2 separate regions of the Homo sapiens genome follow, and region 2 is linked to region 1. Evidence: fine-mapped expression QTL. A gene starts in region 1. The other region holds a variant in brackets. All regions are shown on one strand. Distances are between the middles of the regions. Region 1 holds the start of IQSEC1 (IQ motif and Sec7 domain ArfGEF 1). Region 2 holds the start of LOC124906214 (a long non-coding RNA gene).

What was found. PIP is the estimated chance that this variant, and not a neighbour inherited with it, causes the effect.
Region 2: its variant is fine-mapped to the expression of IQSEC1 in whole blood (TOPMed, PIP above 0.99).

What each region holds. Positions count from the first base shown.
Region 1 is chr3:13,069,450-13,077,957 of GRCh38, forward strand. It overlaps IQSEC1 (IQ motif and Sec7 domain ArfGEF 1), which reads right to left and starts at 3,980. Exons shown (of 14, transcript NM_001134382.3): 1 at 3,543-3,980. The coding sequence starts at 3,565. RefSeq lists enhancers at 293-372, 383-552 and silencers at 3,896-4,055, 4,176-4,355.
Region 2 is chr3:13,006,712-13,015,219 of GRCh38, forward strand. All of the region lies in intron 1 of IQSEC1 (IQ motif and Sec7 domain ArfGEF 1), which reads right to left. LOC124906214 (a long non-coding RNA gene) reads left to right here and starts at 2,879. Exons shown (of 2, transcript XR_007095821.1): 1 at 2,879-3,550; 2 at 3,746-4,033. RefSeq lists enhancers at 2,435-2,484, 2,525-2,594, 2,855-2,924, 5,563-5,722, 7,172-7,673 and 3 more. The variant A/G (reference allele first, on the strand shown) is at 3,841.

The sequences.
Region 1 (8,508 bases):
GGGGAGACCCACCAGGGCTTCGCTTCCTTCATGAAGGCCCCACTGCAAGCAGCAGGTCAGGGCATCCCACCAGAGGGAGACCACTGCCTCCTGCGGGGGCCGGCAGGTCATCATGTCCCCCAAACAGAAGGAAGAGAGGGGTCGGGACAGTTCCAGGCAGTGAATGAATGATTGAACAGGCATGGGTAGGCGAGTGCTCCACTGGCCTGGCCAAGCAGCCCACATCTCACACACCACAAACTCCTCACAGCCTCACTTCCTGTGTTCAAGTGACAGGATGTGACATGCCCATGAGGACAGAGGGGCCCCTTGCAGAGATGATGAAAAGGATGCTGTAGTTACAGAATTGAGGGCCATCCTTCATTCAGACACCATTCATGAAGCTGCCAGTACAGCAATGACCTCAGGTGTTAGCAAGTTTGATTCAGGGTCTGATTCTTGGAAGCCTCCTGATGTTCCCCCATTGGGTTAAGAAATCTTCTCCTGCTTTTGTTGTCATCCTTTATCCCATCCAGTGTGCCACCTTCACGATGGACTGAGCCCTGACCGGGACAGAGTCTCGATTCCATAAAGCTCCCTTGGGTGCACACCAGGGGCCCAGAGAGTGGAAGTGGCGAAAATGGAGGCTAGGGAGTGAGGACAGTGGGGTGGGGGTGGGGGCCCGCCGGCAGGGCTCCACTAGGCTGAGGATAGCCTGGCTGTGCCATGCACAGGGCCGCTGGAGCAAGTCTGTCCCGATTTGACATGTGGCATGCTGGGGAAGGGACACCACTGCCAAATGTACGGCAGGAAACAGCTGTGTGACCCCAGTCAAGTTCCTTCCCCTCTCTGAGCCTCAGTTTCCTCTTCTGTAAAACGGGATCGACAGTATCACATTTTACAGCAGTTGGTGAGACCCCATGAGGCAACTAAGCATGAGAACGCTTTGCAATCAAGTTGGGCAGCTCTGATAGTGGCTACAGTGCAACTGTTGGGAAAGTTAAACATCTAGAGATGCTCAACACCCCATCTCCTTTCCACACTGAAAGGCAGGGTAACAATAAGGTCTGAGCAGCAGGTGCTGGGAGAGCCTGGGCCTAGAAGTGGGCCTGCCGCGGGTTCTGGGTGGGGAGTAATGGTGGGCAAACACAGGCTTATCAAGTGCAGCAGGGTAACCTCAGGAAAGGCCTGCTCTTGGTTACAAGATCCTTGCGTACAAACAGAGCCACCCCCTCCAAGTATCTTTGGTATTTCTGGTGCCAATAGGTTTGGTGGCAGAGCGGGGATGGCCTGGGAGTCACAATGCTCAGACTGGGAGCCTGAGAGCTGGAGAAGAGTGAAAAGACCCACAGAAAAGAAAGACAGTGAGCGCTAAGCCCCCTCGGGCCAGCCCCTCTCTTAGGCAGGAAGGCTAGACGAGCTTATTCCAGGAATCAGCAAATCCACCAGAGCCACGTGTTCAAATGCAGGTGGCTGGGCCCCCAACAGATTGAAGCAGACTCTCCAGGGAAGAGTATTGGAATCCATATAGAACATTGTCCCTGCAAAACTGCAATTGGATAGGCTTGGGCAACGCAGCCACAGTGAATAGCTGCATCACGGGAACATCAACCACACCTGGACATTAAAATCATCCGGAAAATGAAAAAGATCCTGAGGCTTGAGCCCTCCCCCAAACCTAGAAACCAGAATGTCTGGGGGTGGGACCCACACAGTTTTTTTTTGTTTTTTTTTTTTTGTTTGTTTCTTTAACTGCTCCTCAAGTGATTCCAGTATAGCTCCTGGGCTACAACCCCCACCCCAGGCTAGTATACTCCAGGGTTCCAGTAGAACTGTGCTGAGCCTCAGTTTCCCCATCTCTAAAATGGGGTTCTTAGTGCCTGCCCAGACAAGGCCTTTGTGAGGATGACATTTCTGAGCATTGGAGGCAAGCAGGCACTGGGCCAAGTAATCTGAATATGAATTGTCACATTTCATCCTCATGACATCTCCCCTCCCCGATGTAACAGCCCTGAGAGTTTAGAATTTCTCTGGCATCAGGCTCCTGGGCCCAGGCAAAGGTGTGGCAGGGAGGAGACAGCTGTCTCAGGAGGACCTATTCCCAGCCACTGGGGTGGAAGTTCCACGCTGGGAAAGGATTTACTATTTGTTTCAGAAAATGCAGCGAGGGCCTTGCCACAGGGAGTGAGAACTTTGGTGTGCTCTGCTCGCATCGACAAACCAACCTGTGAGCTTCTCCACTAAAAAAGCAAGTGAGCATCACAGCGAACCAGAGGCCACCGTCATCCCTCGAACCAGAGGCCACCGCCATCCCCCAAACCAGAGGCCGCCATCCCCCGAACCAGAGGCCACTGCCATTCCCTGAACCAGAGGCCACTGCCATCCCCCAAACCAGAGGCCACTGCCATCCCCCAAACCAGAGGCCACCGCCATCCCCCGAACCAGAGGCCACCGCCATCCCCCGTGGGTTGCCGCCTGGCACTGCTGACGCAGCAGAGGCAGAGGTGTGTTTACTTTCCCTCAGTGGAGGTGACGGGGAGCTGCCACTCTATCAGGGGTTCCACAGGCCCCTGCCATGGTAAGGGGCCTCCATCGATTAGGGAGGCCTTGGGGTAGCCCCCAGAAGGCTCCCCACATACTGCTCCAGGCCTCCTTTTCCTAGCCTTGCGACTGAGCCCAGCTCAAGAGGACTCAGCCATGCTCTCTAACCTCCTAAGGTCTGAGGTCACTGCACAGCCCCAAATGAGTGGGTCCTGGGCAAATAGTTTAGGCAGGTGGAGACCTGACGCTGGGCCTCAACCCCCGCAGCCGAGGGTCCCAGAGGAGGGCAAAGGTTGCTCCTCCTAGAACAGCACAGTGCAGCGCCCAGAGAGCTGTGAGGGAAGCTGGCATTCGAACCCCACTGCCCCCTGGGAAGCCTGGCTAACCGAAGCGCAGGCTTTGGTTTCCATAAATACCCGGGCCCGTGATGTCACCGCCCCGTGCAGACTTTCACAGCCTCTGCTGCTGGCGTGAGGCCCAGCACACAGCCGCTCTGCTGCCAGCCCACAGAACACCTGGGCACACAGCTGGACACTGATGCCTCCGTGCTAGGGACGGTGGGCTGGACCTTCACCTGCCCTTGGAGGACGCAGCATCCTGGCCACTGCCTCAGCCTGCCTGCGACCTTCTATCAGGCATGGCTGAAGGGCTGGCCATGGGCGTGCTGGGCAGAGATTCTCTTCCTAAACAGGCTATGGGCTAAACCAAAGCCAAAACAGTAGGAGCCGGTCTGGGCACCCTGAATGTGGATCTGGGAGGGGGGATACCTGCTCTCACAGTTGGGAATTTCACAGCCTGCTGAAGACCTGCTGACTAATAGCCTTTTTCTCATCGTCATCACCAACAAACACCTCCGCTGCAGGGGCCGAGCGCCGGCATCCCTGCTGGGTGGCCAGCTCCCTCTGCAAGTCACCTGCACATCCACCTGCCCCTCCCCCAACGATGCCCCTCACTCCAGCTCCCAGCTCAGCCGGGCCCCTCTGGCCTCTGGCTTCAGGCAGAAACCTGCCACATATACTCACAAATAGCGTCTTCTGCAAGCCATCCTGTGTGAATCCGTTCTTCCCTGTTCTGGCTCCCTCTCCAGCGGGGAGGCTCAACGTGTTTCCAAGAGGAGCAGGCGGCTCAGGCAAGAAGTGGAGGGGAATAAAATTAAATCGCGGGGCGAGTCACATTCCCGGGGGTGGCGGGCTCCTCCAGGGAGGCTGGGGCGGGAGCGGGGGGCGGCGCCAGCAGCGGGCTGTGGAGGGCCCTGGCACGTAGCGCGCGCTCACACCGTGCCCAGGAGCGAGCGAGGACGTCGAGTAACCGTGGTCGCCAGGCTGGGCGGGGGCGTCCACCTCGCTGCTACCTGGGCCCACCTTGGGGTTTTTCCCTCCCGTCCATCCGGGGTGCGGGGCGCGGGGATGAGGAGGGGAGGGTCGAGAGAAGGCTGCCCCGGGTTTGCTCTCGCAGCATCCGGAGAAGGGGCGGGCGCGCCGGAGCCTCCCCCACCCCCCGCGCCCAAGGAGCAACGTAGTGCGGCCGCGCCGGACCAATCGCCGAGGCGCTGGTCGCCATGGCAACAGCAGCATCAGGCGCGGCCGCTCGGCTGCGCCCTCGCGGCAAAGTCACACACCCGGCGGGGCGCGGGGCGCCGGCCCCTTCCTGGCCCGCGCTGGAAACCTGGAAGTCTGTTGCTAAAATGCACGCGCCGCGCGGAGCCTACGATGACACTACTTTCCAAGGCGGCTTTTCTGCCTTCGGCACTGAGACACGCGAGCCGCGGAGCTCTCGGGGCTCTGGCCCTGGAGTGAGGCCGGCCGACTCCAAGGCTGTCTCTGCCACTGAAGGGCGATGAGACCTTGGCAAGCCGCGTCTCTCCTGGGAGTCTTGATTATGCTACTGTGAAAGGGATCATAACAGCTATACCACGGGGTTCCAGGAGGGCGCACCACGCCAGTAGCTGCACGGTGGATGGCAGAGCAGTCCTCGTTTGTGCCAGTCCTGTCCCAAAGGGGGCTGCACGTGGCTAGGGAGAATTTCTGGTCTAGCTATGGTGCCTCTTCCTCTCCCGAGGACCTTCCATGTGCCGGGCAAGTATCTGCCCTCATGATGTTTACAGTCTAAGGGGAAGCCAGGAAGTAAGTGTGCAGATATAGGATTGCACGTGGTGATAAGGATCAGGATGAAAAGAGAGCAGGAAGAGGGGAGGCAGGGACCCCAAGAGAGGCGGGAAGGAGGCTTCTGCCATCAGACGGGGTGGTCGGGAAGGCCCTCTGTGAGGCACGTGTGGCTGAGACTCGGATGACGCAAGAAGCAGGGGAGGAGCTGGCGTCAAGGCTCTGAGGCGGAAGGCAGCCTGGTGTATTTGACTGGCCCAGAGGAGGCCAGCGTGGTGCAGTGTGCGACAGGGAGGTGGAGGGGAGAAGCGCACATCCATCCTCGGCTCCCACACCCGCCTTTCCCACACAGATTTCTCTCTTCCTGTCTGATGTTCATCTGATCCTCTCTGCTTCCTCATCTGTAAACCAGGAATCCCAGACCTATCTCAGAGGCATGTAGATAATATTCTTCCGTGCACGGTAATCCTCAAGACAACCCCAATGAGGCCTAATACTATCATCCTACTTCACGGGGGAGCGCATTAAAGCCAGAGGTTCAGCAACTGGCCCAAGCCACATAGCTGGCGGGCAGTCTGGCTCCAGAGTCTTGGTTCTTGACTGCTTGAAAGCTGCCTCACTGGGAGGAATAAATGAGAGAGGGAGTAGTTGAGACTGGGAATCGGCTGGATGTGGATGGCAGCCCACAGGGCCATTTCCCTTCCTCTTTCCATTCTCTCCAGATTCACACTCACCGAATTTAGAAGGAGTGATGCTGCATCCTTGAGTTCCATTCCATCCTTTACAGGGGAGGAAATGAACCTCAGGGGGTGAGCGATTTGCCTAAAGTTGCACAGCAAAGAGTGGCAGAGGTGGGACTAGGACCCCAGTCTTCCAGCTCAGTGTCCTGGTAGGGAGCAGAGGTTGGAGCTGCGGCCTCAGGTGGCCAAGGTGAGGCATCGAACAGAACTGCATGACGCTTCCCGATCTGCCCTCTCCAGGTGAATCCATATGCATGACCAATCTTCCTGTAGCACGGACCTCCCTCCCTGAGTCATGTGAGGAATTCATATTTCTGTGGGTTAACATGTTGCAGAGCCCACCCCACCCCTCTCCTCACTGGAGTTTCAAAAGATTTTAATAACATCAAAATTCAGCCACTGCATCAGGAGGGCTCACTTTGTGTCAGGTCCAGTTGTTTCATGGTCTCAGTGAATTCTCAGAAGCGCCCTACGAAGTGAACATAATTACCACTCCTGCTTAGATGGGTTGCACCACATACGGGGGTCTCCCATCAAGGCAGCAGCAGAGCCCAGACTAACTCACAGCCTGGCTCGGGCTAGAGCAATGCCCCTCTCAGCCGCCTTGCTCAACTAGCGATTCTCTTCTCACTTCCATCTTCCAGAGGCGGAAACAGGCTCAGAGTGGTGAATTGGATGCCTTGAGTGTGGAGCACCCAGTGTCCCTTTCCTGGGCTTCCTCTTTTGCTCCCTGGGAGGCCCATGACATGCATCTGCACATCCGTTGCTTCTTCAGCACTTCTTCTTATAAACGTACTCTCCTTTTCCTTCCATGTTATGCTGTTATTTCAAAGCAGAGGAAATGGCAAGGACCCTGGCATTCAGATACAAATGCCAAGATTTTAGGCTTTTACAAAACATCATTTACAGGGCACGTGGGTAGTGCCTACAACCCACCTGCACTGGCGCGGTTTTGATTTCTGACATTCAATATCCAGCGCCGGACCAGGCACAGAGGAGGCTCCAAAAAGCGTGGAGCTGGGATTCCGACTCTGATCTCTGACTACGGAACCCACAAGTTCATCCCTTCAGGCAGTGAGAGGTCAGAGAGTCTCAGAAAAGGGGCGCGCCCACCTGTGCAGGCTGAGCTTCACCTACCTCATGACCCCAAGCCCTCGACATCCAATCTCAGGGCAGATTTGTCAGCCACACCTCCCAGATGCAAAGCCTGTGGTCGTGAGAGGGTCCTGATCACATAAGAAGTGGAGCTACAGAACTCTGGATGGAATTGTCCACTTTCCTCACTTTCGCAGTTGTAACCAGATGTCTGGAGTGGGAAGCAGGGGCAGCCAGCCTTGGGGTTGCTGCCCTGTGACCCTGGTTATATCACAGAATCATCCACCCACTCACCCACCTCTGCAGGCTGGAGACTAAGGCACAGTGGGAACCTAGCATTCAGACAGCGTTTTCATCCCCTGGAGTTTCTGTAAGTGCCCAAGTTCACCCCTGCCCTTGCCTCATCATTGTGGACTGTGGGAAGCCGCTTGGATCAGAAGGTGAGAGCAGCTGCCAAGGGGTAAGTCCAGAAACATCTCACATCCATCTCCCTTCCCTCAACGGGAAAATTTCCACCCTGCAGGCTGGCAGGAACATTCCTGCAGATCGGCTCACTCCTGCAACCTGCGGCCATCTGTCCCCAAGGTGGGAGGAACATGACAGCATTTGGGAAGAGGGAGGACGGAGAAGGTTGGAGCATGCAGTCCACAGATCTGACAGTCACAGAGCTCTTCAAGGCAGGGAGCCCCGAATCCCAGGGATTCAGGATCTTCATCCAGGGCTGGGCAGAAGTGAACCCCCCACCCCCGCTGCTCCGTTCCAACTGTGGAACTGCAAAGCCGTCAACACTCTGACTCTAAATCTCAGGACCACACAGTCTTCAAGTCTGGGGACTTTATTTTCTTTTAGCTGAAGCTTCACATTTTAAAGAAATGAAATCCTAACTGCACAAATGATAAGAAAATGTATTCTCTTTAAACAAAATAAAGCCCCCTTTACCTCCCACCCTCCTAAATCTTATTCCCCGTTCCAATCTCTGCAGAGGTGACCGCTGTCATCTGTTTGGAGTGGATCCTTCCAGAACTTTTTCTATGCATTTATCTACATATATATGCCTATAGAAAATAGGAAGTATTACATAGACCCTAAAAAAAATGGCATCATTTTACAAATTTCTTTCTTTCTTTTTTTTTTTTTTTAAAGACAAGGTCTCACTATGCTGCCCAGGCTGGAGTGCAGTGGCTTTCACGGGAGCAACCATAGCACACTACAGCCTCAAACTCCTGGGCTCAGCGATCTTCCTGCCTTAGCCTGGGACTATAGGCATGCACCACCAAACCCAGAATATTAAGAATTTTTTAATAAAAGATTTAAAATGTGCCAAAAGGCATAAAGATGAATACCGTGAACTCTGATATACCCCTGACCCACTACAAGAAACAGAACATGACGAATATGATGGAAGCCCAGGGTCACCACCTCTGTTAAATCCCCTCGCCAGCCCTGCCCTCCTCCCATCCCCATGGTGAATTCACTCTGTAGTGAATCTCCTGCATAGAGAGGTATCCACAAACCATATAAACACTTGTGCACGTTTTTAAACTTTACATAAGTAGGATCACATTGCATATCTTTTTCTGCAACTCTTTCCCCACTCGGCATTATGTCTGGAAGACTGAATCATGGAATCTCTAAACCACAGACTCTTCCATGCTGAGTTCCCAAATCACAGGCTTTTCTAATCATAGACATGGGCTCGGGCTCTGGTGCTGGGAGGACCTCGCTGGCAGGCTCGTGCAGGGCCCTCCTAACATCTCTGCCCAGCCCCACCCCTCACGTGCAGGTGGCTGACGGAGGGAGGAAGCAGCCGGAAGCAATTATCTCTGGAAATGTGTGTGGGCTTCTGGAAGCCTGGCAAACACCTCCCTCTGCAGCAAACCAAGTATCACTGAGGTGCCCTGTCCCCTGTCTTGGGGGAGAAGATCAGACCCTGGCCCTATAACAGTTGAGCAGCAGTCCTTGATATGCTCCTGAAATGGAGCACATCCACTGCTTCTCGATGCTATTTTGGAGTCCTGGCTGATGGAGATCTGAAAGCCACGAGGGCTGGC
Region 2 (8,508 bases), 63 kb before region 1:
GCCCACCCACGGCCCCAGGAGGCAGCAGCACACCCGGAAGCACTGCCTGGGCCCAGGGGCAGGGGCATGAGAAGTGTCCATGGGCCGCTGGGGAACTCTACCTTTTAAACAGAGCAGAAACCCACGTGGAGCCCAGAGACAGGCCGTCTTTGGCAGATGCCTGGGGTCTGTGCTCTGGGCCGGGCTCTGACTGGCGGAGCCCCTGCAGCCTGGCCTCTCCTGACATGTTTGCAGTCAAAATCACAAAGCTCTGCTACCGGCGGGTATCTCTCTCCCCATTTTATAGATGAGGAAACAGATTCAGGAGCAGGAGACACTTGTCCAAAGTCGGTTTTGCTAGGCTTTGTCCTCCTCCAGGTCTTTTTGGCCCCCATCCCTGCAGTGGTAGGGGTGCCCCTAATTCACAAGGGTGGAGTGCAGGAGAGGAAGCTGGCAGGGGCTGCATGAGACTGTGGGGAGGGAATCACGTGTCTTCATGCAGACAGAGCCCAAGGCACTTAGGGTCGGGGGACAGAACCCCTAGGAAGAGGGTCAGGGGAGCTGCAGCAAGGACTCTGTCTCCAGCTGGTATGCGGGATCCAGACAGAGCAGGTGGGGCTGGCTCTGTAACTGGCCTGTCGGCCGTTCTAAACATCCAGAGAACTGAGTAGTGGGGACGCCAGCTGTGGGCCCAGCTGCCCCTGGGAGGAGGGCAGAGGCCAGCCTGGCTCTCTACCTGCCCCACCCACTGCACCGGTCCACCCTCCGTGTCTCTAAGGAAAGCTAGGTTCTAGGTCTCAATTCTGATGCTGCCACTTTCTGGCTGGCAAGGAACTTGCGCGAGTCACTTGGCTTGCCTCAGTTTCCCCCCCTGCAAGATAGGGCAGATATTCCTGTTGGACAGGATTTATTGTGAGAATGGAATGAGATCATAGTTGGGACCATACTCCTACACACATTAGAGCTTATCACCCATTTCGCACTTGAAAAACATCCCGTTTTCTTTGCTGCTGCTTGAAAGCCTCCGCAGGCCACCCACTCCTCACTTCTGGGTCTGCCTATCTCTGCGGTTTCTGTGCTTGCAGATGAAATGTAATTCTTGGCTGTTGGAAGTTTGGGGCTGAGCCCAGCCATCCCTCCCTGTCTCTGGGGCCCCACCCGTACCCCGCCCCAGAGTCCAGAGCCCCCAGCACGTCCAGCTTACCAATGGAGCCCACCCTTCCCCGGAGCAAGGTCACAGAATCCCCTGTCCTGTGGGAGGAGAGCTTGGTGATTTCTCAAAGTCCTTGCAGCTCTGACCTTCTAAGCCTGCACTCCTCTAGGAAGCCAGGTGAGAGAGCAGAGGAACTACCCTTCCATAAGCCCACCCCAGGAACCCCAGGGAGGGGCCAGGTGCCTGGCCTTCTGAGTGTCTGTACCTGAAGATGAAACGGGGTTACTTAGGTACTTCTTGGCAGTTCTGAAGTTCAGGACTGAACCTAGCTGCCTCTCCTGGCTATGTCCGTCCATTACCATCACCACCTTGTCACCCTCCGTCTGGGGTCTGAGGCCAAGCTGGACACCTCTCCTTCCCGCGTCGAAGCTCAGAGGTGAGCCTCAGCTGACCCTCCCTCCAGCAAATGTTTAGAGAATGAGGTAAGCATCCTCCACCAGTGACCGTCAGGCTGTCCACTGTCCAACCCAGACGTCCTCTCTGAGAGTGCTGCCATTAGTCTCCAAACCCTCTGTCCTTTGAGCCTGAATCCCCAGGGGGCTGTTCATACTCCTCTTCCCTCTGCCACCTGGCTGGCCCCCATCTTTGCTAGCCACCTCCTTCTTGCTCTCAGTTCCCCTCCTCAGGGAGGCCCTCACTGACCACCGCCAAGTCGCTCCCCACTGCAGCCTCCTGCTTCATTTTCCTGACTGTGATGTTGGAAATGCTCGTTTGTGTGTTTGTTTACTTGTCACCTCTCTGCCTCCCCCAACCCCCAAATGCCAGCTCTGTGAGGGAGGGGGTCTCACGCTGGTGTCCTCACTGCTTTGAGCGGTGCTGGGCACACAGTCAATATTAGTTGGTCGAGTTACTGATAGAACAACGCTCTTGATCCGGCTCCAGGGCAGAAAGGGGAGCTCACAGAGGAGGGGATATCCAGCTAACCCAGTGGGAACCAGACACGCTGGCAAACCCCATCCCACGGGCTAGGCTTTCAGTTAACCCTCTCATTCATGCATGAGGGGGTGCTTATTAAGCCATTTTCCAGATAAGGCAATGGAGGCCCAGAGAAGTGAAGTGACTTGCACAAGGCCACATGGCTTGTATGCTGCAGAGCTGGGTCTTGGCCTGGCTTTCTGAGATCGACAGCCCTTTTCCTCTCCAGGGTTCCAAGGCTGTGATTCCGAGAGATCACCACACAGGGAAGGAATCCTGACAGCCTGTGAAGTGCCTGGCACTGGGTCAGGTTATTTGCCAAGGTTTGTTCATGTGCCTGCTCTGTCTTCATAGGTCTATTTTACAGATGTCAAACTGAGGCCCAGAGAGGCCTGGTGACTCGCCCTAGGTCACACAGTGCGGTGACAGCCAATCCAGGACCGGTGCCCGGACTGCCACACCTCTCCATGTGGTGGCGGTGAAGCTAAATGGCCTGCTGCCTTGATTTCCCCTTTGTGCCATGAGGGTGTGGGCAGGCTGATTTCTGACATGGTGTAATGTCATCAGGGAGGCGGGACCTTGCCTGAGAAGCCTTAGGGCTGAAAAGGGAAGCGCAGAGTGGCTGTTTCCCCATCCTGCCCGCTCTCCGCCCTGGCCCTGAGCCAGGTGGGCGGCCAACTCCCTTTGACCACTTCCTGGGGTAACTCCCCCGGAAATGCCCCAGATGCCCGCAGCCCAAGTATAACTCCAACTTCCAGGCTCAGGACCCTCATCCCTCACCTCCTCCTGCCAAGATCACCCCAAGCAGAAACCAGTAGGCATAATAATTAGTATGTTTGTATATATATATGTGTGTGTGTGTGTGTGTGTATGTACTTTGCTGATTAGATATTTTATCAGATATCTTATCTATATAAGGAAACAACAACAAAAGTGAAGCTGACAGTGCGTTGAGAGCCGGGCTTTAGCACACCACAGCTCTATGTCTTAGGATCCCTCCTCTCTGCCAGTGTGGCGCCCGCCTCCTACTCCCATCCTCTGCCTCCAGTCTCCTCTGCCAGCCTGTCCTCCATCCAAGCTCCCTAGGCATCCTCTTCAAACTCTTTGCTGATTGCTGTAAGGCAGTGGAGCATGTGGTTAAGATTCTGGGCTTCAGGTCAAGCTGATTTGGGATTTGAGGACATTTGCTAACAGTGTGACCTTCGGCAAGTGACTGTGTCTCCCTAAGCCTCAGTTTTCTCATCTGCAAAATAGGGATCATAACAAACTCTACCTCACGGGGCTGACCCGAAGGGATGATGCATAGCAGAACACATGGCTCAGCTGGCCAGCCGGCAGGTCTTAGCAGGTCATAGTGGCGGAATGACCAGCCCACAAGTCTTAGCAGGTCGCAATGGTGGATGCAGGATGTTTCTGCCTGACCAGCCTCCATTCTCACTTCCGGTAAGACACCCCAATTTTCTTTGGGGAATCCAATCCTCCATTCTCAGTCCATCTAATTTGGGTCAGCTACCTCCAGGGGTGAATGCAGTACCGAGCTTGGTCTATCAGAGAGAGTAGTTCATCCCCCCTGCTCAAGTGACTGGTCCAGGGATGGGTATGTGGTCTAAGCTAACCATGGAGAGTCGATTCTGTCAGAACAGTTTCTGCCTGGATATGACAAATGTCGACCTGGAGCTGTTGGGGCCATCTGGGCAGAAAGGCTGTCCGGGAATGAAGTCAAAGAGATGGAA[A/G]AAGAGAAAAAGAGGCCGGCGTCTGGGGTCATGGTTTGAGCCCCCGAATCCAACTGTACCTGAAGCCCTGTCTGTTTCAGAAACAGAAGGCAATAAATTCAGCCTTTGCCTTAAGCCCGTCAAGCCAGTCTGGGGTGCCTCTTTTTTTTAATCAACCAAACAAATACTGGTTAATAAAACTCCCTGCTCAAAAGCTCCTGGCGGCTCCTTCATGCCTGCAGGGAGAGGCCAGCACCCTGGGCTCTGGGCCCCACTTGCCTTCCTTTTTGTCCTGAACTCTGGCCCTCATCCCTCCCAGACAGGTATCACCCAAGACTGCTGTTTCCCAAACACACCATGAAGACTCGACCTACAGTTTCTACCCAAACTCTCCTCCACTCCCCACTTGAGCAGTGCCTGCTCACTAGAGCTTGCCTCCTCCTGGAAGCCTCCCCACACTTCCTCCACCACTCTGAGTGTCAGTGGCATCTACCTCCAGCTTCCCATCACTCTGCTTATTTCCCCAGAGTGAAATTCACTTTTTTTTTTCTTTTTCCTCTTCAAAAAAACTTTGTCTCACTGTATCATTTAAGAAATGAACATCCTGGATTGACTTGGGATTTGACAAATTCAAACTTGGTTTTAACACACCATGTGCATTTCCTGAGCCCCAGGCGTACCAGCAGACACAGGGCTGAAAGACCCAGGGCCTACCCGCAGGGGCTTAGAGGCTGAACCAAACCGTTTCCCATTTGGCTCAAGACAATGGATGCAAAAATGACCATTTTTAAAATTTTAAATTCAAATTTATTTTACTTGGGGATAATCATCACTGACACTCACTGAGCCATTGCTAGGTCATTGTCTATGGGCAGGTCCATGCATAATGTTATTTAATCCTCACTCTGGGAAATGTTATCCTCACTTACAGAGGAGGTCACTGAAGCTCAGAGAAGTAAAGGGAGCTGCCCAGGGGGTTACAGCAACTGTAGGGAGCTGACCCTATATTCTAGCCCTTGTTATCCTCCCTGGCCTTTCTCAACTGTGTGCGAATACACTGGGGCCAGCTTCGAAGTCTTTTTAACATTCACTGTGTAAACTCGGCACCAAGCTAGCTTCCCCTGGTTGCTCACAGGCAGGTGGCTGTCCACACCCACTTCTGTGTGGGGGCCTCTGGCGTCACATTTCACACCCCTGTTCTGTAGGCATCGGGTTTCAGATTTGCTGTATTTGCTTCCGCTGCCACTACCGGTAGATCAGAAGCTGGGGAGGTGTTTCAACACATGATTGTTTTGAATATGGTGACTTCCCCATCTATCCCTGCCATGGGTAACATCCCAGCAGCCTCTTGATAGCAGAACAGAGGCCATTGAGCCTGGCCAATGAGTGAGTCTCAAATTCTAAGTTCGTGGGGGACTCACTTAAGAAGGGTGGTTTGTTCCAGCACCTGATCAGAACCTGTGGCTCATCCTCTGCAAAGTGGGCATGAGGCACCACCAGAGGCTGCGGAGTGGCCAGAATGAGGCAACATATGGAGGGGGTGTGGCACACGGTAGGTGTACACTAAGTGCTCATTCCCTCTTTTCCTTACAGCCTTGCTGCTGGGGCTACCTTTCACCCACATGCAGGCTTACTTGCCTGCACCCCCGGCATGGCCCAAGAACCAGTTCTCTGAGTTCAGCCAGGACTTCCAAGAACCTAGCACAGCCAGGTCAGCTCCACTGTGTATGAGTCCTGAACCCGACCCTAGGCCCCTGCTCCCTCAGTTGCCATTTGCCAGGCTACCTCCTCCATTGCTCCTAAAATCTAGCTCATCTGCCACCTCCTCCAGGAAGCCTTTGGGGAACTCCTCCAGATAAAAACTCCAGTGTCCCTCCTCTGGGCTCCCACAGGCCTCAGAGCTCACCCCCTTCTCAGCCCTGAGTGCCATGTGTAGTCATTTCCTCTTTTCTAGTCCCTTCTCCCACAGAGCACTGTGAACATCCCCAAGACAGAAACGATGTGTTGCTCACCACAGCCTGGGCCCTACAGCTGGCCTGTCACAGGGCTGGTGACGACCGAATGAAAGGAAATGCCTAATGTTTTCTGAGCACTTGCTACATGCCGGGCACAGAGCCAGGGATGCCCACATGGAGAGGGCCTGCCTCACAGTGAAGACAGTAGGAAGGAAAGCAGAGGTAAGAGTTGAAAAGTCCAAATCCATATATGAACACTGCGATTCCGCCATTCCCGAAGCTAGTTACCCTCCAGACTTTTCAGTTCCAGGAGGCAATGAAACCCCTTTTCTGCTTATGCCCGTTAGGTTTGGATTTTCTGTCACTTGCTACTAAGACAGCCCTCACTGACCAAGTGAAGCTCAGAGATGGGACCCAACACACCCAAGGTCACATAGCTACGAAAGCAGTGGAACAGAAACTCCCATGAAAGTCTGGGCTTTTTTTTTTTTTTTTGAGACAGTCTTGCTCTGTGTCCAAGGCTGGAGTGCAGTGGCACGACCTAGGCTCACTGCAACCTCTGCCTCCCAGGTTCAAGCGATTCTCCTGCCTCAGCCTCCCAAGTAGCTGGGATTACCGGCATGCGCCACCACGCCCGGCTAATTTTTGTATTTTTAGTAGAGATGGGGTTTCACCATATTGGTCAGGCTGGTCTCGATCTCCTGACCTCAAGTGATCCGCCCGCCTTGGCCTCCCAAGGTCTGGGCTCTTAACCACAGCCTGACCACACCCCAGGCCCGGCTGATAGCCACTTCAATGCTCCCACACGCTGAGTACAGTCCAGATACCCACTCTGCCGGCGGAGTCCCCTCACCTCTTTCCCAGAAGCCACTGGAGTTACACTGGTTGGGATTTTTGGGCATTGGTTTGCAAGTCCATCAGATGGGGCTAATGAGCTCACCCTTGCATGCAGGTCAGAGGACAGCTCACACTGGCCTAGCCCACAAGGGACTCAGGGAATGAAGGCCACAGTGTGGACCCTCCAACCTGCCCTCAGCTGCCTGATGGCCTACAGGTGTTTTCTAATAGGTGACATGTGTCCATTAAAATAAAATACAACCAACCGCTTACCCCTCCTTGCGCCCATCTCCTTCCTCTGCCCTACTCTCCTTCACAGAACATGTCATCCCCATGACCTATCATGCATGCATTGCGTTAGTCATATATTGCTTGACTCCCCAACACCAAGAAGGGAAGGGATGGTTTATCTGATTTATCACCTTTGTACTCTCAGAGACAAGACAGTACTTGGCACACAGTAGGTGCCCAATAAATGTTTGTTGAATGACTGAATTAACAAATGAATGATGTGCATGAAACTCTGCACAGAGTCATGGAGTGCTTAAAGGCTCCTGGTTACACCTGGCCATTTCACAGGTGAGGACATGAGGCCTCAGGATGGGCTCCCCTGAAGTCCCCAGGCAGGCAGCAGGGGCTCTGATCTGCTCTGTGCCTCTGCTGGGCTGGACCGAAATGGGCCTTGAACACAGGTGTGGGCAGCCACCTGGCCAGGCTCCCCAGCTTGAGCCCTGGCGCCCAACAAAGGCAGGTTGCTGCTGGAGGTAGCTGAGCTGGAGGCCAGAGCCCTGGGCTCTGAGCTGTAACCCCTGAACCTGACCTCTTGGGGTCCTTGGGCCAACAGCCCCTGGCTCACTGGGGTCATCAAGCCTCCCCTAACCAGCCTGAGGGGCACTGTGCCCTGGTAAATCTCTCAGTGAGATGGGAACCCAGAGTCACCTACGCCCACAGGGAGATTCCCCACAGAGGCCTGCTTCACCATCTAAGCCTCACAACAACCCCGGAAGGGAGGACTTTCGCTATGGGTTATATGGAAACCCAGGCCCAGAGATGTTGGGACATCTGTCCCATGTCACATGGCTGGGGCACACTGGGGAGCTGGGATTTGAGACAGAGTGACTGACCCCTCAGGGCACTGAGCAGCCTTCTGTCTGCAGCGTGGGGGCAGGGGTGAAGGTGCCCATTGCTTCCTTATCACTGGGCCTCACTTTTTCCATCTGCCACTGGTTGGGCTCCAGTCCTAAGGAAAGGGCTATCTGTCTTGCCTGCCCCCAAGAGCCAGGGCTGGGGTGGGGGAGGCTTGGCTGGGAGTGAGAGCTCCCAGGCTGCTCCCTGAGGCTGGGTCGGTAAAAGCTTCCTCTGACCCATCTGTTGAACTCCCTGATGACCCCAGTGAGCCAGGGGCTGTTGGCCCAAGGACCCCAAGAGGTCAGGCTCAGGGGTTACAGCTCAGAACCCAGGGAACATCCCCCAACACGCTCCCAGCCCCAGGGATCTACAGATCCTCAAGGTTCCACTCTGGATCATTTCAGAAAGATACTGAACTTGTCAGTGGGTCAAGGGGCTCCTGGGGGGACACATACTGGGCTACTGCCAGATGGGAAATGGCCCCAGCGAGCCTGGGGCAGGGAAGACTTCTGCAAGGCAGTGTCTCCTCAACACAGCCTGGGGAAGCCTTGTGTTCCCTCAGCCATAAACCTCCATTTGCTCAAAGTTTATGCACCATAGGGTTGAGGGGGGCAGCAGTGTGGGAAGGAAACACACCAAATATGCTCCAGGAGCCCTGGGCCACTGTGTGACTTCTGAGGGCCTCTGAGGACTTCTGACTTCTGTGTGACTTCTGAGGGCCTCAGTTTACTCGGCTGTAAACTGGGCATTGTCAAGAGTCCATCTTTCT